3 separate regions of the Homo sapiens genome follow, and regions 2 and 3 are each linked to region 1. Evidence: fine-mapped expression QTL. A gene starts in region 1. Each other region holds a variant in brackets. All regions are shown on one strand. Distances are between the middles of the regions. Region 1 holds the start of TSC22D1 (TSC22 domain family member 1). Region 2 has its middle 76 kb from the start of MIR8079. Region 3 holds the start of LOC107984552 (a long non-coding RNA gene).

The links.
Region 2: its variant is fine-mapped to the expression of TSC22D1 in whole blood (TOPMed, PIP above 0.99).
Region 3: its variant is fine-mapped to the expression of TSC22D1 in monocytes after Pam3CSK4 (Quach 2016, PIP 0.95). The same link has a PIP of 0.9 or more in monocytes after LPS and monocytes after R848.

The regions. Positions count from the first base shown.
Region 1 is chr13:44,571,369-44,579,549 of GRCh38, reverse strand. It overlaps TSC22D1 (TSC22 domain family member 1), which reads left to right and starts at 3,220. Exons shown (of 3, transcript NM_183422.4): 1 at 3,220-6,387. The coding sequence starts at 3,476. TSC22D1-AS1 (TSC22D1 antisense RNA 1) reads right to left here and starts at 3,654. Exons shown (of 3, transcript NR_038381.1): 1 at 3,280-3,654; 2 at 2,373-2,508; 3 at 1-1,448. RefSeq lists silencers at 1,528-1,577, 1,758-1,957, 2,228-2,467, 2,478-3,187 and an enhancer at 3,508-3,747.
Region 2 is chr13:44,267,909-44,276,089 of GRCh38, reverse strand. No RefSeq gene overlaps it. Among named protein-coding and RNA genes, the nearest start is that of MIR8079, 76 kb to the right of the region's middle. RefSeq lists an enhancer at 1,449-1,628. The variant C/T (reference allele first, on the strand shown) is at 4,783.
Region 3 is chr13:44,308,551-44,316,731 of GRCh38, reverse strand. It overlaps LOC107984552 (a long non-coding RNA gene), which reads right to left and starts at 5,490. Exons shown (of 3, transcript XR_001749973.2): 1 at 4,641-5,490; 2 at 11-84. RefSeq lists an enhancer at 3,565-4,764. The variant A/C (reference allele first, on the strand shown) is at 3,626.

The sequences.
Region 1 (8,181 bases):
GAGTTATTTAGGTGGCCCAAAGGGTATACAGCTGCTGTTTGGGGTAATTTAAAACTTTGACTTAAAAAACAAAACAAAACAAAACAAAAAACCTTTGACTTAAGGCTACATTTTGAGAGATCAAGAGCATTTTCTTTCATACTGCAGTCCAAAGAAAGGACATTCCACCCATCTACATTCCATTGCAGTTTCAATCGGTTAGGGTAGTTTCTATTTTCCATTCAAAAACTATTGAAAAAGAATGTCAAATTTGCATTTCAACAATGGATGGCAGCGATTAACCAGGCATATTACTTGCAACAAAAGCTCAAAAAGTAAAAAAGAAATTATTTTTGTGAAAACACAAATAGCCATAGTTCTATAAAAACAACCAATCACATATTAATATCATAGAACAAGTAGTCTTCTCAAACATATTTGATGTTTATTACTGTATCACTTTGAATATTTGCGAGAGCCTATTTACTTCTAGCAGAGGTTTACATTAGCAATATAAAGTAATAAATAAATAAATAAATAAATAAATAAATAAATGAAGTCCGGGTTTTTCTTTTCAGTGTGGGAGACCCCACATAAAGCAACAATGTATCATAGCTTTGACACTGGATAAATGGGATGTTAAGAGTGCACTTCTATTCAATAACATGCAAATGGTGACATAATTCACTTTTTGAAAGCTTCCCCTTGGAACAAGGGGAAGAGTTCAGAGAAAACTAAAGGTAAAAAGTTGAACTGACAACTAGAGGTGTATCAAAACTGCAAATGACAATCGTTTTTGCTTTAACAATCTTCTGAAATAGGAATGTAAATCCTTGAGACTTCCTGAATCAGAGGTCTAACCATAAGCGTTGATTCCCCTAACAACCTAAATTTAACAAAATGAAAATTCCTCCCTACAGTTTTTCGGCTTGCTTTATCATTTTTAAATTCCTGGGAAAGACTTACATTCTCGATTATTGGTAAGAAACGCTTAGAACTAGGTTTTGACATGAAATACCAAGAAAGTAACCGCCAGTAAATTGCCCCCAATCAAACCTAACATTGCTTCTGTAGAACTACATTTGGACCCATGAAATGTAACGTGTGTGTGTGTGTGTATTTTAAAACTGGAATTTCGGATGGCTTTTTCTTTTCTAGCCCTAAAAGGCATTCTTATCATTTGTGTTGCTCACATGTCCGGACCACCTTGCCTCCTGAGTCAAACCAATGGGGGATATAGCCAGGACGATGAACGAAAAAGGCGTCGCTGCTTGGAGACACCTGTTGAGGTCAGTCGATTACAGGGCCGGCCTGCTTCTGTCCTCCAGTTAAGGATGGATTGCAACCACTCCTCGTTAGAGAAGAGCCTAGCCCAGAGGAGCTCAGGCAGTTAACTGGAAACAGCTGCAACATCTGCCCGGCCGCCTCGCCCCTGCCCGTGGAAGGGCGAGGGGACCGCATGGCAGCAACTGCACTGCACAAAAGACAACACCTATCACCGGGAGCCACCGGCCTTCCATAGACCCCACAGCTCCCGGCCCTAGGGCATCCCCCGAGGAGGCAAGGGCCGGGGGCGAGCCCAGGTGCGGCGAGGGGGAGGAGGTTTCCGCCACGCGCCAGGGAAGAAAGCCTGACTCATGTCGTGGCAGCGGCAGCAGCCGCGGCGGCGGGCTCCTGGGAACTGAAACTCGTGATGCTGTTGCTGCGGAGAAAAGCCTCATTACCCATTCCGCAGGCGGGGGACACCACCCAAGGCGCGCACACCAAGCGCCGGCGCTCCCGCCGCCTCCGCCGGCCCTTCCGCGCCGCGCCCCCTCCTCTGCCGCGTGCCCGCGCGCGCCGGCCGCGAGTGTGAAAAGAGCGGACACACCTAACCTGGGCGCGCGGCAGGCGCGCACCCTGCCCGCCCCCACCGGGCCGAATCACGCAGTCCGACCCGGATTCGCTCCTTCGGCCGGAATTCCCCACCCCCACTATCCCCTCCGGCTCCACCACTCCCGGCTTCGGCGCCTCTGCCAGCCTTCGGTAATTTCCGTCGGGAGACCTGGCGCTCGCCTAGGCCCGAAGACCCGCCGCCTCCTGCCCCGCCAGACCCGGCTTTATGTCTGCGGCGCCGAGGCGCATGCGCAGACGCCATCTTCCCTCCTCCTCCTCCGCCTGCCCCCTCCCCCCAGCCACCACCGCCTCCTCTCGCCGGCGGTCGCCCCTCCTCCTCCTGCGCTCCGCGCTGGTCCCTCCCCTCCCGATGCCGCGAGAGACTGGGGGATACGGTGGAGCCGGGGGAGCCGAAGAAGAGCACTAGTAACAACCACCACAGCCCCCTCCCCGCCCGACACCCTCCCTCGGCACCCACTCACTCCCCCGCCCCGTTTGCCGACACCGACCAACCCCACCTCGTTCCTTTGAACGGCGTCGGCTGCAGTCGCTGCACCAGCCCGTCTGGCCACCAACGCCGCGGAGAAAGGAGCCGCCGCCGCCTGCGGCCCTCTCCCGCCCGGTCGCGGGAGCAGCGGGGTGAGGAAGAGCCGGCTGCGGAGGAAGAGGATAAGAGAGGGTCGCACCCTCCGCCCTAGCGCACGTCCCGCCGCCCTCCGGAGAGGCTCGGGTGCCGGCCCCTTCCTCCCCGAGGACGTGTGCCGAGTCGAGGCGCCTGCCCTGAGGGAGGAAAATGCTCGGGCTCCATGGCTGCCAGTGATGGAGCGGTCCCTGGGCTCCCGCTGCCACCGCCGCCGCCGCGCCCCGGCCGTGCTCCGCGAGGACCCGGCGTCTCTGCGCGCCCGCCCGCGCCTCGTTGCTGGGCTCACCGTACCGGGCGCCTCGCCGCCGCCCCGCTCGCAGCCGCGTCGCCCCGGCCCCAGCCGCGGCCAGCGTTTCCTCACCGAGCAGCCGCCGCGAGCCCAGGGGGTTTGAAAGGGTCTGCGGGGCGCGGGGGGAGGGCCGAGCGGGGCCGGGAGGGGAGGTTTGAGCGACACTGAGCTCGGGGCTCGCTGGCGGCGGCGGCGGCCCCGGGGGTGGCGAGGGGAAGGCGACATTTGCTTGGCGCTGCCTCCGTGCAGAGCGGCCGGGAGGGCTTTGCAGCGGCCGCCGACGCGGCGGGAGGAGGGGGCTGAGGCGGCTTCGGAGTTGGCCGGAGAAGGTGGGCATTTCTCGCTTTTCCTCCCCTTCCTGCGCTCTCCCCCTCCCTCCTGCCCCGCACCCCACGTGAAGCAGAATATAAAGGGGGGTGTGAGGCTAGAGGGGAAAGTGAATGGCGAAGGACTGAAGGGATCCCCCCTTCGGGTCCCCGGCCGCCCTGTTCACCCTCGTTCATCCTCCTTTCCGAAGCTCGCTCTCGAAGGCAGGAGCGACCGGCGCCTTTGGCTGAGGAGGAGGAGAAGGAGGAATCGCGCCAGGCGGAGCGTCAGGTCCCGTTTTCCTCTCCGGCGTCTCCAATACAAAGATTACGGTGCAGAAGGAAATTGCACTCGTCTCCTCCGCGCCCCCGGTACCCAACACAATGCACCAGCCGCCTGAGTCCACCGCCGCGGCCGCCGCCGCTGCAGACATTAGCGCTAGGAAGATGGCGCACCCGGCAATGTTCCCTCGAAGGGGCAGCGGTAGTGGCAGCGCCTCTGCTCTCAATGCAGCAGGTACCGGCGTCGGTAGTAATGCCACATCTTCCGAGGATTTTCCGCCTCCGTCGCTGCTTCAGCCGCCGCCCCCTGCAGCATCTTCTACGTCGGGACCACAGCCTCCGCCTCCACAAAGCCTGAACCTCCTTTCGCAGGCTCAGCTGCAGGCACAGCCTCTTGCGCCAGGCGGAACTCAAATGAAAAAGAAAAGTGGCTTCCAGATAACTAGCGTTACTCCTGCTCAGATCTCCGCTAGTATCAGCTCTAACAACAGTATAGCAGAGGACACTGAGAGCTATGATGATCTGGATGAATCTCACACGGAAGATCTCTCTTCTTCGGAGATCCTTGATGTGTCACTTTCCAGGGCTACTGACTTAGGGGAGCCCGAACGCAGCTCCTCAGAAGAGACCCTAAATAACTTCCAGGAAGCCGAGACACCTGGGGCAGTCTCTCCCAACCAGCCCCACCTTCCTCAGCCTCATTTGCCTCACCTTCCACAACAGAATGTTGTGATCAATGGGAATGCTCATCCACACCACCTCCATCACCACCATCAGATTCATCATGGGCACCACCTCCAACATGGTCACCACCATCCATCTCATGTTGCTGTGGCCAGTGCATCCATTACTGGTGGGCCACCCTCAAGCCCAGTATCTAGAAAACTCTCTACAACTGGAAGCTCTGACAGTATCACACCAGTTGCACCAACTTCTGCTGTATCATCCAGTGGTTCACCTGCATCTGTAATGACTAATATGCGTGCTCCAAGTACTACAGGTGGAATAGGTATAAATTCTGTTACTGGCACTAGTACAGTAAATAATGTTAACATTACTGCTGTGGGTAGTTTTAATCCTAATGTGACAAGCAGCATGCTTGGTAATGTTAATATAAGTACAAGCAATATTCCTAGTGCTGCTGGTGTGAGTGTTGGGCCTGGAGTTACCAGTGGTGTTAATGTGAATATCTTGAGTGGCATGGGCAATGGTACTATTTCTTCCTCTGCTGCTGTTAGCAGTGTTCCTAATGCAGCTGCAGGGATGACTGGGGGATCGGTTTCAAGTCAGCAGCAACAACCAACAGTTAACACTTCGAGGTTCAGAGTTGTGAAGTTAGATTCTAGTTCTGAGCCCTTTAAAAAAGGTAGATGGACTTGCACTGAGTTCTATGAAAAAGAAAATGCTGTACCTGCTACAGAAGGTGTGCTGATAAATAAAGTGGTGGAGACTGTAAAGCAAAATCCGATAGAAGTGACTTCTGAAAGGGAGAGCACTAGTGGGAGTTCAGTGAGCAGTAGTGTCAGCACACTGAGTCACTATACAGAGAGTGTGGGAAGTGGAGAGATGGGAGCCCCTACTGTGGTGGTGCAGCAGCAGCAGCAGCAACAACAACAACAACAGCAACAACCAGCTCTCCAAGGTGTGACCCTCCAACAGATGGATTTTGGTAGCACTGGTCCACAGAGTATTCCAGCAGTTAGTATACCACAGAGTATTTCTCAGTCACAGATCTCACAAGTACAATTACAGTCTCAAGAACTGAGCTATCAGCAAAAGCAAGGTCTTCAGCCAGTACCTCTGCAAGCCACTATGAGTGCTGCAACTGGTATCCAGCCATCGCCTGTAAATGTGGTTGGTGTAACTTCAGCTTTAGGTCAGCAGCCTTCCATTTCCAGTTTGGCTCAACCCCAGCTACCATATTCTCAGGCGGCTCCTCCAGTGCAAACTCCCCTTCCAGGGGCACCACCACCCCAACAGTTACAGTATGGACAACAGCAACCAATGGTTTCTACACAGATGGCCCCAGGCCATGTCAAATCAGTGACTCAAAATCCTGCTTCAGAGTATGTACAACAGCAGCCAATTCTTCAAACAGCAATGTCCTCCGGACAGCCCAGTTCTGCAGGAGTAGGAGCAGGAACAACAGTGATTCCTGTGGCTCAGCCACAGGGTATCCAGCTGCCAGTGCAGCCCACAGCAGTCCCAGCACAACCTGCAGGGGCATCTGTCCAGCCTGTTGGCCAGGCTCCGGCAGCAGTGTCTGCTGTACCTACTGGCAGTCAGATTGCAAATATTGGTCAGCAAGCAAACATACCTACTGCAGTGCAGCAGCCCTCTACCCAGGTTCCACCTTCAGTTATTCAGCAGGGTGCTCCTCCATCTTCGCAAGTGGTTCCACCTGCTCAAACTGGGATTATTCATCAGGGAGTTCAAACTAGTGCTCCAAGCCTTCCTCAACAATTGGTTATTGCATCCCAAAGTTCCTTGTTAACTGTGCCTCCCCAGCCACAAGGAGTAGAACCAGTAGCTCAAGGAATTGTTTCACAGCAGTTGCCTGCAGTTAGTTCTTTGCCCTCTGCTAGTAGTATTTCTGTTACAAGTCAGGTTAGTTCAACTGGTCCTTCTGGAATGCCTTCTGCCCCAACAAACTTGGTTCCACCACAAAATATAGCACAAACCCCTGCTACCCAAAATGGTAATTTGGTTCAAAGTGTTAGTCAACCTCCCTTGATAGCAACTAATACAAATTTGCCTTTGGCACAACAGATACCACTAAGTTCTACCCAGTTCTCCGCACAATCATTAGCTCAGGCAATTGGAAGCCAAATTGAAGATGCCAGGCGTGCAGCGGAGCCCTCCTTAGTTGGCTTACCTCAGACTATCAGTGGTGACAGTGGGGGAATGTCAGCAGTTTCAGATGGGAGTAGCAGCAGCCTAGCAGCCTCTGCTTCTCTTTTCCCGTTGAAGGTGCTACCGCTGACGACACCCCTGGTGGATGGCGAGGATGAGAGGTAAGATCATGTCATATTTCTGGAGACATTCAACAGATTTGAAGTTAATCTATTTAGTAGCTATATGTATGCACAAAATGACTCTAAAACATTGTATATTGTGTTTTGTATGTGAAAAATGCATTTTTATGGGAAGTTTTATAGAGCAAGAGTTATGGAATGGTTTCAGAGGGAGTAGGAAATAATAGTAATATGTAAACAATATTTTCAGAATAGTTGTTGAGCATGTGTTCACATTAAAAACAGGTTTGGGGGCGCCAAGTGGTTTTATTATCTCTAAAATGCTTTTTAGAAATATTATGGAAAGCTTAATTTTTGCTAACCCACATAATAGTTAATCTATTTTGAGCTGCTAAAATAATCTCTTGGGGGGTTGTGGTTCCCACGTTTGTTCTCCTTTACTAGACATCCCTTTTTCATTTCTACTGTGTTTGATCTTAGTCTGTGAAAGATATTGTTGCCTACTTTTCCTAGTCAGATATGGTAGGAAAGATGACTTAATCTGGGTTATATAGGTTGCCCTCATACTCCAACTGACCAACTTTTGCGTACTTATTTAATGGTCATTTTATCTGAACAGTAAAGGAATGGGAATCTTATTTTGTGGGAAAGGAGGACATAAACTATCAAAATAACCAGACTTATCTTGATAGTATGCTGAACATTTTTTCTTTTGCATGGTAGATCAAGGTGGTAGCCATTTTAAAGAACAGAGAAAGTAAGTCTTGGAGGATTGAATTTATAGAGGCGTGAAAATAAGACCTTGGTCTCTGGCTAATCTACTCCACCTGTTCCTTTCTTTCCTTACCAAAAAGATACAGAAAGCCTAAAGTACATTATTAAACCAAGCGTTTTTTCACGTAGATTGGAAATAATATGCCAGTAACGCTTATTGAATCAAATTGTGTCTTTGAAGCTGACTGGCTAAAAAAGTTGTGAAATCTTTCATGTTGATTTTTAAAGTAATGTTCTTTTCACAAATTTTCCAGTCTGTTACTAACCTTGATTAAAATGCTATTATAGGAGTTATGAAAAGACATCATTTTCACGGTGGAATTTGGAGTAAGCGTGCAAGATATTTAATTATTTTAGTATTAGTTGGAGGGTTTTGTGATTGAACTTTCATCAAGCGAATTTAAGCATTTATATTCTATATGTATGTTTGTGGGTTTTGCTTTGGAAAAATTGAGCATATTGCAAAATAGTTGTAATTTTAGAAAAAGAAAACAGGTCAAATGTTTCAGTGAGGTTTGTGTTATTTAGTTGTTTAAAAGGTAAGATAAAGACATGGTTAAATTGATAAAATCTTATCTTTCAAGATTTTTATTATTTTTCTAATAGTCAGGTAATTAAAACCTTGTTACCTAACCAAATGTATTCTGTATTATTTGTACAAAACTGTACTCTAAAAGATAAACTTTTAGGAGGTAGTTTCCTTAATTGTTCCATTATTATTGTTAAACCTTTAATTTTATCATGCTAATACTCAACTAATTTTAAAAGAATTACCACAAATATTAATGTTTTTTAAGTCAAAAGGTTATGATTTGAGTGAAGCCTCTATAAAAACAGCTATATTATGTGGATGCTAAGTTTAGAGAAACAAAAGACGGGTAAAATACACAAACAAAAACACTCATTTTGAATTCAAACTTGCCATGATTTTGTAATTGCCATTTGTGGTCTCCTGGCTTGACTTTCACCTCTTTTTCCTCCTATTGGTAGGACATGATAGGATTTTCCACAGCTTGCCCTTCCAGGCAATTAAAGTCAGATGATGCTACTTTCAACTAG
Region 2 (8,181 bases), 300 kb after region 1:
AAATTAAGTTAAAAAAAAAATATTACCAGGCATACTAAAACTGAAAAAAACACAGTTTGAAGAGCCAGAGCAAGCCTCAGAACCAGACTCACATGTGGCAGAGATGTTGGAATTATTAGATCAGGAATTTAAAACAAATATGATTAATATTTGACTCTACTGGATAAGTAGACAGAGAGCAAGAACAGATAAGGCAATGTAACCCAGGAGATGGGAATTCCAAGAAACAAGAGAAAATGCTTCAAAAACACTTCAACAGAAATAACAAATGTCTTTGATGGGCTCATTGGTAGACTAGATAAGGCTGAGGAAAGAATTGCTTGAGGATATCTCAACAGAAACTTCCAAACTGGAAAGAAAAAGATGGAAAAAATTAGACCAGAAAATCCAAGAACTGAGGGACAGCTATAAATATGTAACATGTAGATGGAATCATACAGTATGTGGCCCTTTTTAAATGGTTTCTTCCACTTAGCAAGTTTTTTTTTTTTTTTTTTTGCAGCTGCAGAGTCAACAGCAGTCCTATTTCCCCTAAATTTGCAAAGGGATAGTGAGCTCATGGGAGAGAAAAAGAAAACAGGAAAACAGTGATGGGGTATTTGGGGACTGAAAATGCAAAACTAAATAGATGCAAAGTTCATTTTAAGACATTTTCTTCCTGGGACCATGGCTTACTCCCCAGGTGTAAATATTTCTCTTATCAAAAGACTTCCTTTTGTTTTGGGCAATGGGTAATTTATCTGGAGTCCTTTGGCCTCTAGATTATGTCTTAGTATACCGGTTGGTAGAGAGTCCCTCTCTTTCCCGCTGTTGTGTTGACATGGCCTCCATTAAACACCACAGAATTTAGGATTTGTGCTGCTTGCTTCTTTATGAGGCTGGTGCCTGATAGTGGGGCCACACAAAACTGCTTCCCCTCCAGAACAAACTTGATGAGCTGATAAGTGATATAGCCATGCCCGGTACTGTTTTCATAAGTGGGTTAAATTCACATTTGCAAATTCAGTAGAGCAGCCCTTGTCCATCTCACTGTGTCGCTGTGCAGAGGAGCTGAGTTCTGAAAAGCTCTGGTTTCCTTCTCTGTAAGCCTTGCTGGCACATTTTCAAAGACCACATCAGTCAGTGTGAGTGGTCCTGGGTCCTTTCCATGCAGCTGGCTCAGAGTTTTACAGACCCTGTAACAGAATCTCATAAAGACTGGCTGCCATTTGGGGTTAAAGTCTGGTGCTTCTCCCTCTTTTCTTGTATGAAGATTTGATTTTTAGATTTGTTTGGAAAATGACTTTGTTAGCCTAAATCATCTTAGGCTTCAATGTTAAAATAGAGTGGAATATGCAGTAGTTGACTCATACTATTGTAGCTAGACAACTTGTCACTTAATACTTCATGACTTTAGGGATTGGTTAAATTAATAATTTTATAAGGCACATAGACGCCAGAGAGCTTCCTCCATTTTGTTCTTTTCTCTAGCAATGTGCGTCATCATTACACCCCTACCAAATAGTGTATTTTAGAACCTGTTATGCATAACTCTGCCTCTGCTTTCACTTTCTGTTTCCCTCTCTCTCTGCCTCTCCCTCGGCCTCTATGTCTCTTTCATTCACTCTTACTTATATATACTAAAATATTGCAAATTCGCTCCCTAATAATTAGGAAGTTTTTTGCATGTGGCTTGAGGTTGTCCTTCAAAGGTTTTAAATATGTGTTGATGAGAATAGGCATAGGGAGGCAGGTGTGGGACAGCAGATGGAAGGGATGCTCTGTGTTCAAAGATCCCACCCTAGTGAAGTGAAGCTTCTACCTGGGGTTAAAGACCAACTTCCTGATTGTAACAGCTGTGACCCAGAATCTACTCTGGGGTTGACTTCTTCTGAGAGCTGATTTGGCTGTGTGAGCCTGGAATACTGAAGTCAGGAGTGGGAGCAGCAGCAGCGACAGCAGGAGTATGTTTGCCATCAGGCATCAGTGAGCTCCTAACCCCTGGCCAGCCCGGTGTGGTGGGAAAGCACAGGTTTTGCAGTCAGGGGAGCTGGGTTGGAGTTCAGGGTTCAGCCATTTACTAGCTTTATGGTGCTGGGCAATTTATTCAATATCTCTAGTCATCAATTTACTTTTTTATTGTTGTAAAAGAAATACCTCATGTTGGTTATTGTGAAGGTTAACTGAGCAATGAATGTGCAGGTATGGGGAGTTTCAGATGCAAGCTTTGTCTCTGTCCCTTGAGAGGACAGTGTGTCATGTGACCCATTTGAGAATACCAGTGATTTAGCGCAAAAAGTTGCTTTATCTCTTCATTCCTTCAATTTTTTGTTAATACATTTGCTCATTCATTCAATGCTGGCCACGAAGCATGTGACACCAGTCAGGTGTTGGGGATACTGCTGTGAAGAGTCCGACCCTCTCCTCCTCCTACCAGTCTGGGGGAGATGCTGACCACAAATGACAGTCACAATCCAGTGTGGAGAAGCACCACACTGGGGAAAGTACAACATGCTCTGGTGGCTTTGGAGTGTCAGACAACAGAGCGGGGAAGAGGTTAGGAAAAGAAGTGGCCCACAGGATAAAAACAAGCAGCTGGGTGAAGGTGAGGCAGAGGATGTAGCATGGCACACAGCAGTGGTGAAGAAATGAGGATGGCGGGCCCTCTGTAGATAGGTGGACATGCCTGGAGTATCGAGTGTGAGGGTCGTGTTGAGATATATACAGAGATATGGAGCCATCACAAGCTATCTGCACCCAGGAGCTTTCTCCTGGCCTCCCCAGTGACGTTCTGTACCTCAGATGTTGATTCCATGGATGCTGTCATCACCAAAGATGGGATGGATGCTGGGACACTCCTAGCACTTAGAGTTAGAACTTGCAATACATGTTTCCCGTAGAAACAGCATGTTAAATGGTAGTTCAATGTAGTTAGGATATTGCTACAAATAACACCTTTGAGTGTACTTAATTTAAACCTGTGAAATGTAGAAAAATCAAAGAGGACAGGTCCTGTTCCAGGCTAGAGGTACTTTTTGCAATGCAGAGCACTATCCTTCTAGATCTGGCCAGCAGAGCATGAATCGGGACCTCAGGCTGGCTTTGCCTGCATTTGGATTTGAATTTGAATGTTTTGGTCTAGGAGGCTCTCTGCACAGGGTTTCCATGATTCCATCACTCCCTGCTGTTTCATATCTGGCTGACTTCCTCACAGTGAGGTTGCCTACTTGCCCCTGGAGGTACTGGACTTGGAAACCCTTTCTCTAGGCAGTAGGGGTTGGAGATAGCATCATCGTTTCCGACTGATTCATCATCAGCTTGGTGTTAGTCCACTTACAAAGTCAAGCATGACAGTTGAGGCAGTGTTTGGAGGTGCCCTCTGACTTTCCACCAAATGCTTTTTTTTTTCTTTTCACTTCTTCCAATCCTCCTTTTTTTTTTTTTTTTTTTTTAATCATTTCCTCTAGGCACTTTTCTTTTCTAGGGCAATTGAATTCAATTCAGCAAAAGTATATGGGACGTCTTCTATGTGTCTGGTACTTAGGATGCGAGGGATAACAGAGCACAGTGTCACTTTCAGGGAGATCACAGTCTAGCATGAAGGGGTGGGAGACAGACAAGTAAAAGGGCTGGTTCTAGATGGTGAGGTGGATGCCCTGATGTGGCAGAGGCTAAAGAAAAACCAATGAGGAGTACCTGAGCCATCTTGGGGATGAGGAAGAGGCCAGCAGGAGTTAGCTAGACAACTGCAAGTACACTCCAGGCACAGGGTCAAATGGGAGCAAAGGATCAGACACTTAGCAGGGTGCACTCAGCATCCTGCAGGATTGAGCAAATGGCTGGGGGCAGAGCCAGGGAGAGAGACAAGAACCGTGAGAGCTGAGGATGGGAAGGCCAGCTCCTGCCTTTCCTGTCTTTCCCCAGTGGCAAGTAGGGTAGTACTTAGCATCTCCTGGCACCACTCCAAGCTGAGATGGGCAGTGACCCTGGCCCTGTAGGAAGCCTGTATTTTTCAAAAGCTTCTTTAGAGAAAAGAGCCCCAGGAGAGTAGAGGGCCTGAGTCTGCACTGGCAGGAAAAGTGGACTAAATTCAGGCCAGACTCAAAATAGCTCCTGGAGGTTGACCAGATGGAAATTAGATTACTGCTGTATGTGGGCATAGCACTCAGGAGGCCAGTAAAACAGTGAGAACAAGGGAGTGATCCCTTCTAGAGAACGGGGTGCAAATGTTACAAAATATTTGTGAGCCATGACTTTTAAAAAAATTCAAACGCAAAGATTTTTTTGAGTGCCACAGGGGAAAAATTACTTTGTTAATAGATGAGTATCAAGAGATCAAGAGGATTGTCAGTCCTGCTGTTTAAAATATTAATATCTGGACAAGTTAGGGATGTAACAAACTGCAGCCAGCTTTTTAATGTTTCTTCCTGAGCTCAGAACAATTCAGTCATTCTCCTTAGGTTGCTGTAACCAGGCATGTGGTATCCCATTAGGAAAATGCACCCAACCTTAGACAAGGGCTAGTCTGTAACTCTCTTGTGTCTGTCTGTCCCCTGGATTTACGTGGAAGACCACCTGCTTAAGATAACCCAGGGCCAGGTGCTATGTATACCTGTACCATCTATGCCACTTTGGTTTTCTTCTGTCATTACTGTGTTGTTTTGGGAACTTGGTTCAGGGAAATGATGATGCCAGCAGGGCAGATTCCCTGAGCTGCCCAGAATCCCAGAGGGTACCCCTGGGGCAGGCGGGTATGGTTTACTCATCTTCAAGCTGCAGGAAGTAGTGGCTCCAGGATAAGCA[C/T]CTCAGCCTTCGGAGAAGGACGGGCTTGGGGAAGGGAGATTTTAATGTAGTGTAAACAAGACAGAGGATTTCATAAGCTTCTCGGAAACTCCTGGACCTGACACTCATCATCTGCTACTAAATTTGGCCCTTTCATGTTCCTTGCACAGGATATAATGGCAACCATGACACAGACTCTGGGCTGAATTTAGATAAACAACATGGCTGCTGAGGATTTGTACCTGTTAAAAGTCTAAGAAATGTCAAAGGTTGTAGTAAGTATGACTCAGGACAATTTCATTTAAGTTGTCAAAAGTAGGAAAAAGTCAGCAGTATAGCTGATCACTCTCTTTTGTGCTTTTTTGCACTTGTAATTTCCATGACTCTCACTAAACTGCGGGAGGTAAAACTATTTTTGTTCTCTGGGCTTTTGCGTCGTGTGTAAGCTGATTCCCAAGTTTGGGTAATATTGTGGAAAGCGTCAGTACCACCACTGAAGCCTCCTGGAGCCCCATCACCTCCACCCTCTTCCCGGGCAGGTGGAGTGAATCTCCCTGACTTTGAATTTCCAGAGTACTCGTGCATGCCTCGATTACAGCACTAGTTGCTTACAGCAAATTATCTGTTCACGAGTCTGCCTCCCCCACTGATCTTTGACCCCCATAAGGGGTTCTTTCATTGCCTTTTGTATTCTCAATGTGAGGACAGTGCCTGGGACACAGTAGGCACATATTTGATGCTGTGCGGTCATCCTGATTCTGGAGGATGATGTTTTTGGTAGTCAAATGACAATGGAATAGAGCCCCATGGAAAGACAGTTCGGAGGTAGAGGAAGGAGCAGAGAATTTGGAGACCAGAATTCCTTTTTTATTTATTAGATGTTCCTGTCACTATGGGCCAACCATCAGTTTGACCTTTTGTCTCCCATGCAGTGATAATAGTGCTTTCCTTCTAGATTTTTGGGAGAGAATTAAATGATGCAATAGATATGAAAATGACTTTGCGACTGGGCTGAGTTTTATGGAGGAGAAGCATCATCATTAATGAAAAGAAGCAACTGTAGCCAGGGATTGGGACAATCACACTGCTGTGTAGTTTCCTCACATGCTCTTTGGATGATCTTGGGCACGTAAATTACTTCTTGCCTGTTGTGGATTCTTCATCTCTAAGGAAATTGTCAGTTCTATTTCCCAGGGTCGTCGTGAGGATCAAAAGAGATAACACACGTGAATATAGTTTAAGATTATTTGATAAAGGGGGGATGAGTTTGTCCAGGGTCTTCCTTTTGTCTATTTTCTTTGCTGTCCTCTTGTCTGTCCCTGCCTCCACACCACCAATTCTGGGCCTATGTACGTGCATGTAACCCAGAGGGTTCTTGGCAGTCTGCTATGAGGATGGGATGGAGGAGGGCAGTGGAAGCCACCTGTGCTGAAAGCCCCCTTTTGGGGAGATGCTTTCAGGTGTACAAACAGACACATACATTTCTGATATATCTGTATCCAACTGGGCCCAGGTAATGCTTGCCACTCTTAAATAAGATCAGCTTTTTCTGTCAGCAAGACAATGTAAGCAGTTAGGGTTCTTCCCTGTGCACTGAAAATAAAGCACTTTGAAGCCTGATTAAGTAGATAACCAGGACCCTAGATTCACCAAAATTATGTTGCTACATTAGTATTTACAAGAAACATTAGCAAGCCAAGGCACACAGCTGGTGTGTCAGGGTATATGTTAAGACAGTAATCTGTGGTCTGTCCTCTGGTAGAGGAATACAGTTGGGTGAGACTCTGTTGTACTTTATTCATTTTATCCCAAGTTTCTCTTTCCAACAGGTCTTTTAGATTGTGAACTCCCAGAGAAGAGAGACATGAGGGATCTTGGGGTGTCAAGTGGAAGCTGAGAGGGAGCAGACGATATCCCAAGCCTGGGGGGCTGTTAGAGATTGGTGAACCCACCAAGTGACAGCATTTTCACCCTTCTCTGTCCACACCCCAGGTTAGCAATAAGACATGGGCAGAAATGGTTGTGTAGAGTTCCCAGAAGGACTGAACCCCAGGGAATGAGGCTACTGGCTCCAGCACCAATTGGATTCCTCTGCCCCTTACACAGGCTGGGAAGTACCAGGCACTCAGACTTCAAGAGATCATGTCAGCTCTTTGTTTGACCCTGGTAGGTCAGAAAACCCCAGTAGGTACTGAGACAGGATCTTGAAACCATTGCTCAGAGTTGGATTTGATTAAAATAAATAAATGTGACATTTCTTGGGTGGCTGAATATGAGCAAACTTACTCTCACTTTGTTGGCACTATTTATTTTAGAAATTTGACTCCCATGGGGCTCTATGGGGTCAGTTGATATCCAGTCCAGTTTCTAGCATCTACATCTTCAGGAATGTAGGGGTTCGAAGTGTTGGCAGTGGAGCAAGAGGAAAAGCTGACAGCCAGGTTTCAGAAGTCAGACTGGCGGGGTGTAGTGGAGACTGCCATTCACCTGAGCTGGGAGTTCAGGTGTCTTTCACTTCTCTTCCCATTGAGAATCTTTCAAAGCCGTGGAAGTTGTGACAATGGCAAACCACTAACCAGGTACCATGCTAAGAACGTAACACACATCAACTCATTGTTGATGTCAATACCCATAGCAACTTTGGGAGCTTCCCATTGTAGAGATAAAGAAACTGTACAGAGGTACAGAGATGTGCAAGATCACAGAGCTAGTCAGAGATTGAGCCAGGAGTGAACCAGGTAGCCCATCTTCAGAGTTCATGCCCTTAGAAACTGCATTCTTCTGCCCGTCCATCTTGACTCATCTAAGCTGGGTTGTTAGGTGTCATTTGCATATTCTTTTGTGGTAATTAAGAGGTAGAGTACTTATTTTTTTTAGGACAAATCTGTAGAAGTCCTAAAACAAAAGGGGATCTCTGGATAACTCTTGGTTGTTTCATGTCAGCAGTACAAAGCAATTCTCCTCCTAGCACATTTTGCTTAATCTAGATTTTGCGTCAACAAATAACTTTCAGTAACTGAGGCAATCTTGAAGCGGATTAGAGCAAATTCCTCCTGTGCTACTCCATAACTAAACCAAATCTGGTCTGGTCTGTGGGGCTTGTCTTTGGAAATGCTGAGATATAGGGAGTGGCAGGGTGAAATCACAACATTCTCTTTGCTTTCTGGCAAGAATGTTGAATTCTTACTGAGCGGATGTGGCAAACACAGAGTGGTTGGTTTTATCTGAACCGTTCCATTAAAATGAAATTTGACTAGGGATTTGAAGAGTATTATGACTACCTTGGGGAATTCCTGTGTGGATGTAAATAGAGCTTAGTATTTGTTTATAGGTAAATACCCAAAAGATCATCACAGGTGAGGGTTTAAAAGATACAGCAAGAGTAGCTTTTAAATCAGGGCTTTATTTTATATGTGGGTA
Region 3 (8,181 bases), 260 kb after region 1:
CTACTCTTACCCATTCTGTGTGTTCTCCCCATCTCTGGTGCACATGCATGTGACAGAATGTTATCTGGAGGTCAACTTTAGGATCTGTGAAAAACAAGAAAAAGAAAACTGGTTTGCAGTGCATGTTAGCATGAATACATGATTCCTTCCCTCCTTCTGTCCTTTCTGCCTCTCCCTTCTTTCCTACCTCCTAGTGTCACATGGATCAAACCACTGAATGTAACTTGTAGTTCCTGTCGAATCAATCAGTGAGGTCACAGAAATCATAGGCATGTTTTGTCATTTGAGTGAATGAGCCTTGGTCCCACATTGAAAACAAAGTACTAGTGCATCTTACCAGTGTATGTGGGTACAAAGACACCACTGATTTTGGCATCCCTGGTTGAATGTCAAGGGATACGGATAGGAAGTATAATGTGGTTACTTCTATAGCCAGTTCTTGCTTAATTCTCCAGGCTTTACCCGTTTGTTGCAACCCCAAAGCCCTGCAAATACATTACAAACTATAAAATATCAATGGATTAAAGGCAACGGGGTTCAACCTACAAGAATATGACAACAGGGTAATAAATTGTTTGTGTGCATTTTATTGTGAAAAAAATACATAATACTTAGAAATGTTTTAAAAGAAAACTACTACCTAGATTTCTTTCACCCAAGTACAATTGTCTTTGTTTTTTATGTTTCTGGACAGCTATGGCTGTATGTCTAAATTTTCAAATTGTTGTAATCATAACGCATATGTACTTCTGAATAGAAGTAGATTGGAAGCATTCTTGAACTTGACATTCTCAATTTCAATTATTTGCCTAGGACTTCAAAGATCACAGTGGTTTGTAATGTTGAGGGCTTTGATTTGGAAATGGCTAGATTTTAAAGCTGATGGGCTGGGTGTGGTGGCTCACACTTGTAATCCCAACACTTTGGGAGGCTGAGGGGGGCAGATCACGAGGTCAGGAGTTCAAGACCAGCCTGGCCAACATAGTGAAAATACAAAAAATTAGCTGGGCATGGTGGTGGGCACCTGTAATCACAGCTACTTGGGAGGCTGAGGCAGGAAAATCGCTTGAACCCGGGAGGCGGAGGTTGCAGTTAACTGAGATCGCACCATTGCACTCCAGCCTGAGCGAACGTGCGAGCCTCCGTCTCAAAACACACACACACAAAAAGCTGGTGTGCAAGAAAGTAAGAATCACACAGTCAGTAAACAAGCCCAGCCCACCATTGGTGGGACCAGCATTTCAACACAGCTTTTGTGCTTTCATATGAAGCTTGCAAAGAACTCTCATGACGTGATAAAGACGTTGTTTCTTTGCAGATTTAGGTAAATTTAGTTAAGTAGCCTAATGATGTAATATAATGCATTCTAGAATTTATTTTATTGGCAGAATTTATTTTTATAGCTTTATAAGCAAATCCTGAGTTTATAGACTCCTTAAGAGTCTTGAGGGGTTACTTAACATTTTTAGCTATTGCATTTTAAAGGGAAAATTGTATGCTACAATGGTTTCCACTTATTTGGGAATTTGCAGAGATATTAGGCTATACACCTTGTGAATATCAATAGTGTACTGTATTCTATCTTTTCACGTGACAGTTTACTTCTTATAAATATTTTCCCATGGTGTTACATAATCCCCATAAAGATCATATTAAATGGCTACACAATATTCCATTGATTTGTTGTATGATCATTTACCAAACCATTGTACTACCACTCTACATTTAAATTGTTTTCAGTTTAGCACTACTCAAGATAATGTTACAATGATAAACTTTTTGTCTCCTTTTGAAATATTTTCTAGGGATACATTCCTAGAGGTGGGTAAAAGAGGATGGACATTTTAAAAGAGGGTTGACTTTTGGTATATATTATTATATTGTTTTCCAAAAGATGTATGACCATTTACAATATGACCATCAATATATTAATACCAGTCGAGTGATGCAAAGTAGACAGCATTGCACATAATGACTAAGGTTTTCTGTTAGTTAAATGGGTATATAATGATTCAGTATTATTGCTTTACTTTCCAATGCTTTGACTTGTGCCTAAGTTGAACATTGTAAATTTATGTAGAATTTAAAGTTCTCTTTTAAATGATTGTTAAAGCAAACTAAATATAGACTGAGAATATATTCCATATTTGAGTCCTTGTGGACAGACTGCAACCAATTTAATAGGTAGACAAGATTGAAAACCTAACTTAGGAGTATGCACCTGTAACAATAGCTGAGTCTTGGCCAATCCTAGCAGCCATACTTCAACCACTCATACACTGCTGAGTGTTCAAACTGTGTTCAAGTAAGGCAAATGCAGAGTTGTAACCAATCCAACTGTTTCTGTATGTCACCTTTGATTTCTGTATGTCACTTCCCTTTTTTTGGTCTATAAATTTGTGTTCTGACTACGAGGCACCCCTGGAGTCTCTCTGAATTGGTTGTGATTCTGGGGGCTACCAGATTCATGAATCATTCATTGCTCAATTAAACTCCTTTAAATTTAATGCGGTTGAAGTTTTTCCTTTAACATGACGTATTTGTTCGTATCCTTTGCTGGACTTCTTTTAGAGGCTCATCCTGAGCTTTGGAGTCGAGGATTTGAATCCCAACTCTGCTATTTACTACCTGTGTGATCTTAAGCAAGTTAGTAAACTTTCCCAGTCTCTGTTTCCTCCTCTGGAAAGTGAGGATAGTCATGTGTCTCTCATAGAGTTGTTGAAGGATTCATCAGGATGGCACATGTGCAGAAGTACTGAGCACACACATTAAAATGACTCATTAGTTGTTAGTCACGCTACATGGGTTTGGTTTGTTGGTTGGTTTTTACCCCAGTCTGATCCCTCAGTGGCTTTCCTGTGCCTCTGGAGATAAACCCTTCTTGGCCTCTCAGTAGCCTGACCACCTCTCTTGTCTATGCTCATTCTGCCAAATCCACCCTTCACGGGAAGTGTCTCAAATATTTCTCTGCTTCAGAATTCTATCTATGCCTTCCTACCAGCAGTCCCTCTACTCATTGACCCCACCAAACTTCTTTATCTAGAAAACTCTGAATCACCCTTTAAAACATAGCCTCCAGAAGCTTCCCTGCTCCTCCAGCCTCCCTTTACTCCTCTCTCTTCCGTAGACCCATGTGTATCTCTCTATAGCATTTACTGAACTATACTACATTGTCAATTGACTTGTTATTTTCCTCAGATAGACTCTAAACCTCATGTGAGTAAAAACCATGTTTTATTTGATTTTACAGCCTCACTTGTAGCACAGGGCTTGCCATGTGGAAAGTGTTCAATAAATATTTGTTGAATGAATGAATCAGTACCTACATTACTCATCAGGCATGGATCCAAATGTCTCAAAGAGGAAAGAAAAGTCACTTTCACAGAGCAACCATTTGCCATCACTGGAATTGGTTGGATTTAGAGCAGCATAATGAGAGAAAGGGTTTCACTCAACAAGGGACAGCTGGAGATGTGTAAATTGTGGAACTACAAAATATCTATGTATGTGCTCTTAGTAACCTGCAATCACCAGTCATGGTTCTGAATGATGTTCTAAAACCTCTGAGACATTGCTGTAGGCTACCGTGTTCAACAGTGGGTGATGCATACACTGAGGGCAAACC[A/C]CAAAGAGGAATCCCTAAATTATGATGGGCAGTGGTTGCATTGAAGGAAGTGATTAATCCCCCAAGATGAATATTTTCAAAGTGGCAACATCTATTTGGATGACTAAGTTCTGATTCAATTGTCTGAAAAATAAAAATTGATACATGCTTTGGCACATCTCTTAAGTGGTTAAAAAATACACACGTAAGGGGCATGGGTAGAGTCTAGCATGGGAAACCTTGGAATAAGCAAAACTAGAGTTAGATCTTGAAAGAAATGGGTAAGTGGGGAGTAAGCTTTTCTAACAAAAATAAGACATGAGGTGGGGAAAGAGTGAGGGGTCAGTTTCGGGTGAAGCAGAGGGGTAAGGGTGGAGTAGGATAGGGGGCTTACAGAGGTGCTAGAAGGCCACCTCAGGAATTCCTTGTTAGTGCAACTGTGCAGCTGAATGAGGGAAAGCCAGGGGCCTACTGCCTTCTAGGATGGGCTCCTAGAAGCAAAGCCTTGGATAGGATTTGGATGTGTGTGCTTTACTGAAGAGGTGTTCTCAGGAAATATCGACTAGGGAGTGAGAGGAGCAAGATAGAAGAGGGGAAGGAACTCAGCGAAGATCAGGTCTCAGGTGGAGATTAACCTCAGCTCTGTCCACTGGGGGGATTGGGTAGTCTCTTCATGAGCCCACTTCAGAATTGTGCCTGTCTTGAGGCCAGGGGGCTGGCCCTTTGTGCCATCACTGGCTGTTGGCCATCCTCAGAGGCAGAGTGCGGTTAACCTCCCCGCTGAGGTGCTCTGGTCAGCCAAGGGCAAACCTCCAGAAAAGGGGAGCAGCTGTGGGTAGAGAACAACCAAATTCTCAGCAGCCAGGAGATGGGAGCCCCACAGGGCAGAGAGGGGATCTGGATGAGGCCCAAACATCTCTATCTACATTCATGGTCACAGCTGATGAATTATTTTCTTCCCATTGCACATGGCTGCATCCCTGCCCCTTTTTAGGACTTTACTCAAATGTCTCCGTAAAGCTGTCTGTGGACTTACCAGTATGGAGGAGTGATCTCTTTCTTTAGATGTCCTAAGATGCTTCATCCATCCATACGTCACCTGCTAGATGGTCAGCTCCCCAGTATCAGGTCCTGTGTCTCATTCAGTTTTGTTGATCCCAGCACGGTGGCCAGCACATGGGCAGCGGGTGGTGGGGGGAGGTTCAGGATAAATGTGGTTAGAATGACAGAATGATGCTGTAGCCCCAAACAGGAAAGACTTCGGCTGTAAATCCATTTTTTTCTAGGTTGGGTCCTAAATGCTCTTGGTTTATTATCAGAACATAGCTCTGCTAAGTCCTTTATAATCTTGCTTTTCCCCCTTGAGCATTAATATAATCTTTTTTCTATCCCTTTGCCTGTGTACTACTAGTACAGCTTGCACAGTCGTGAAATTATAGCAATTCTGGAACGGCAACTTCGGGTGTTTTGTAGGATGCTTTCAGAAGACTAGCTTTTGAGCTACCCAGTGTTCAATCTCGCAGATGAATGTTGGGCCTATGAATTTCGTATTGAAGTGATGTATTTGACATGCCCATGAATACATGCGTCTGCCACACTGTGGCCTGCAGCCAGGCTGCAATGCTGAGCCTGCCTTCTGGATCCTCTTTTGAGAAGTCCCTGTAGAAAGCCTGCTAATTGCTTACCAGCAGTGGAGCAAGATGCCTTGGAAATTGCCCCATTGAACCTTCTTTTGCCCTTCAAAATGTCCTGGTGTTGCCTCTGTACTTCACATACTGAAGAAGGACCATGTAGAGGTCATGTAGGGCTTCCCAAGGCAGCATGGAGCCAGTCACCGTGGCCTGCAAGCTTCAGCTTGCTGAGTGTTTGGTCTCAAGGTGGAGAGTGGTGGGGGTTGGCAAGGAGCCTGTATTCTGGCAGAAGGACAGCATTTTCTGTACATGTTCTTTTGGAAGAACATTCAGGATGGTATGTGTTTCATCACACTATGCAACCTGATATATCCTGGGCAGGCTGGATTCATTATTTACCTTGTATAGTTTAATCAAACCGAATCTCCTTAAAAATGTTATTGGCAGAGGTGGGGAGTAGGTATTCCATGAAGCCTCTGCTGCCAAGTGTTAGAGTGCTTGACTTTTCATAATCCACACCGTCTGAAGGCCAAACATGTCATCTATTCAACTTAAGGGAAATTAAGTGATTCAGAAAAAACAGTGAATTCTGATTTCTTTTCTAGATTGAGGATCTGTATGTGGTCAGGTTTTTTTTTTTTTTTTTTTTTTTTCTTGAACAAAGCTACTTGCTGGCCAGAGAGAGGCAAATAAATAAGTCACTTACCACAGGCAACCAGGGTGCCCATTTGGGACTGGGTGATGTTCGTCGTGATGGGACTAATTAACTCTGGAAATGCTGAACAGGTCATGGTTAAGACCCTTTTGAAATGATTGGTGCCAGGCTTTTCCTGGGCATTAGTCCCTGTCCTCCCCAGATCCCTCACTCCAGCTACTGCAGGATGCAATTGACCAATGGCCAGAGAGACACAGCTGACGCCACGCTGAAGTGCTGAAAGCAGACAGCGCTGTCATTCATCTCTCTTCTGCTCCCGGGGCAAGGGGTGGTGACAGCTTCTTGTTCTTCTCAGGTGCCACCAACCCCCTTTTGATCTTCAGTCTGGTTAAACTAAAAAAATGTTTTAAATGACTCCATCTACTGAGAATTTCAATGTTGGCTCTATTACATTCCTTAATTTACGCTTGTTAATTTTGTCTGACTTGGCTTGCTTAGATTCCTTTGGACATATGATCCTTATGAATAAAACATTCAAGGGCCAAATGTTTGAGTGGGACATCTTGACGTGAATATTCCTGGAGAGTGGCAGAAAGCGTGGATCAGGGCAGGTGCCTCTGTCCCAGAGTGAGACCTAGAAACAGCTGTGGTGTGCTGGAAGGAATCCTCAAACCTGGAGTCTGACGATGTTTAAAGGCTGATTCTGCCACTAATGAGCTACTTGATCAGGCGGATTGCTTCCCCTCAGTTTCTTTAGGAGACGGTGTGCTGTGTAGTACTAGCACTCTCATTTTGCTGTCTCTGGGGGAAGATTATGCATCCTTGTCGCATTGTACTAGGTGTGGCCATGTGATTTCTGGCACCCCTCCCTCCTGCTGGCGAAGGACTATATATCCCTGCCCTATTGACGTCAGGCTTGGCTGTGAGATTTACTTTGGCTGGCAAAAGTGAGTATGAGGAATTGTGCCACTATTGTATAGATGCTTTAAGAGACATTGTGGTTCTGCTATCTCCATTTCTCTCTGTTACTGAGTCCTGGAGCAAAGAAGGCATGGACAAGGGCTGTAGCTGACCCATCATACATGTGTGACATGAGTGAGAAACAAACCTTTGTTGAGGCAAATGCTTAGATTTTTGGGGTTGTACATTGTTGTAGCATCGCTTAGTTTAAACACATTAATGCAACAGGGAATAATGTGATCTACTTGGTGGGCTTTTTATGAGAACTATTTGAGAGAATTAACCAAAAAATGCATTGCTTGCCTATGAGGTCCCAGGTACTGTATTCAAGGTATAAGGGCCACAAAATTGTGTAAGGCATGGGTCATGTCCTTCAAAGAGCTCATAGGAGAAGAGACAGAGATTTCTAAAAGTTATGTCAGTAACATTGTATAGTAGACCTATGCTTTTTGCAAGGCATTCAGACTGGGCCGTCACACATTCTCAAATTAAGGAAAACCTCTTAACATTTGACATCCCCCAGAAAATGCTGAAAGAACAGTGAGTAGAAAACAAAAAAGGCATGATGATGTGGATGCTGGGCAGATGGATGGGACCCCTCAGGAATTGAGTAGCTCACTCATTAAACCTAAGCCTTACAGATCAAAATACTTTATCAAACCCTCATGGAAATATTTTAAGCACGTGGTTGCTTGCAAGAAGTCAAAACCATAAATGTAAATGATCTAAGAACGAAGAGTATGTGGTATTTAACCTGGCAGTACATGACATGCAGTATAGTTTATTGCTTGATAAATGGCTGGTCTAAAATTAGAGAATTGGGCTAAAGTTAGAGAATAAAATTCAAGGAGATCCACGATGTTCTTGTTCTAATCAGAGGTTGTTCAGTTATCCAAAAGAGAAACCCACTCAAAGCAGTTCAGTTTAGAACTGGGGAGTGGAAGGATAAAGGGGAATCTTGTGCACTGGAAAGGCTCCCAGTCTCTGGTACCCCTGTCTGTCTCTCATCTCCATTTCTCACTGAGAATGTCCCATGTTCCTCTCTTGAAGCTAGCTTTCCCAGCAACCCTGCAGCCTCCTCACTCAGTCTTGCCTCCTTCTGCCTTGCTGCTGTGGCTGTGCTGACCTGGCCCCTGTCTATGTGATGATGATGGTTAATTTTATGTGTCAACTTGACTGAGCCATGGGGTACCCAGAGAGTTGGTCAACATTATTCTGTAGGTGTCTGTGAGGGTGTTTCTGGAAGAGAGGAACATGTGAATGTGCAGGCTGGGTGAAGAAGATGGTCCTTCCTAACGCGGGTGGGCCTCATCCCATCAGTTGAAGCTCTG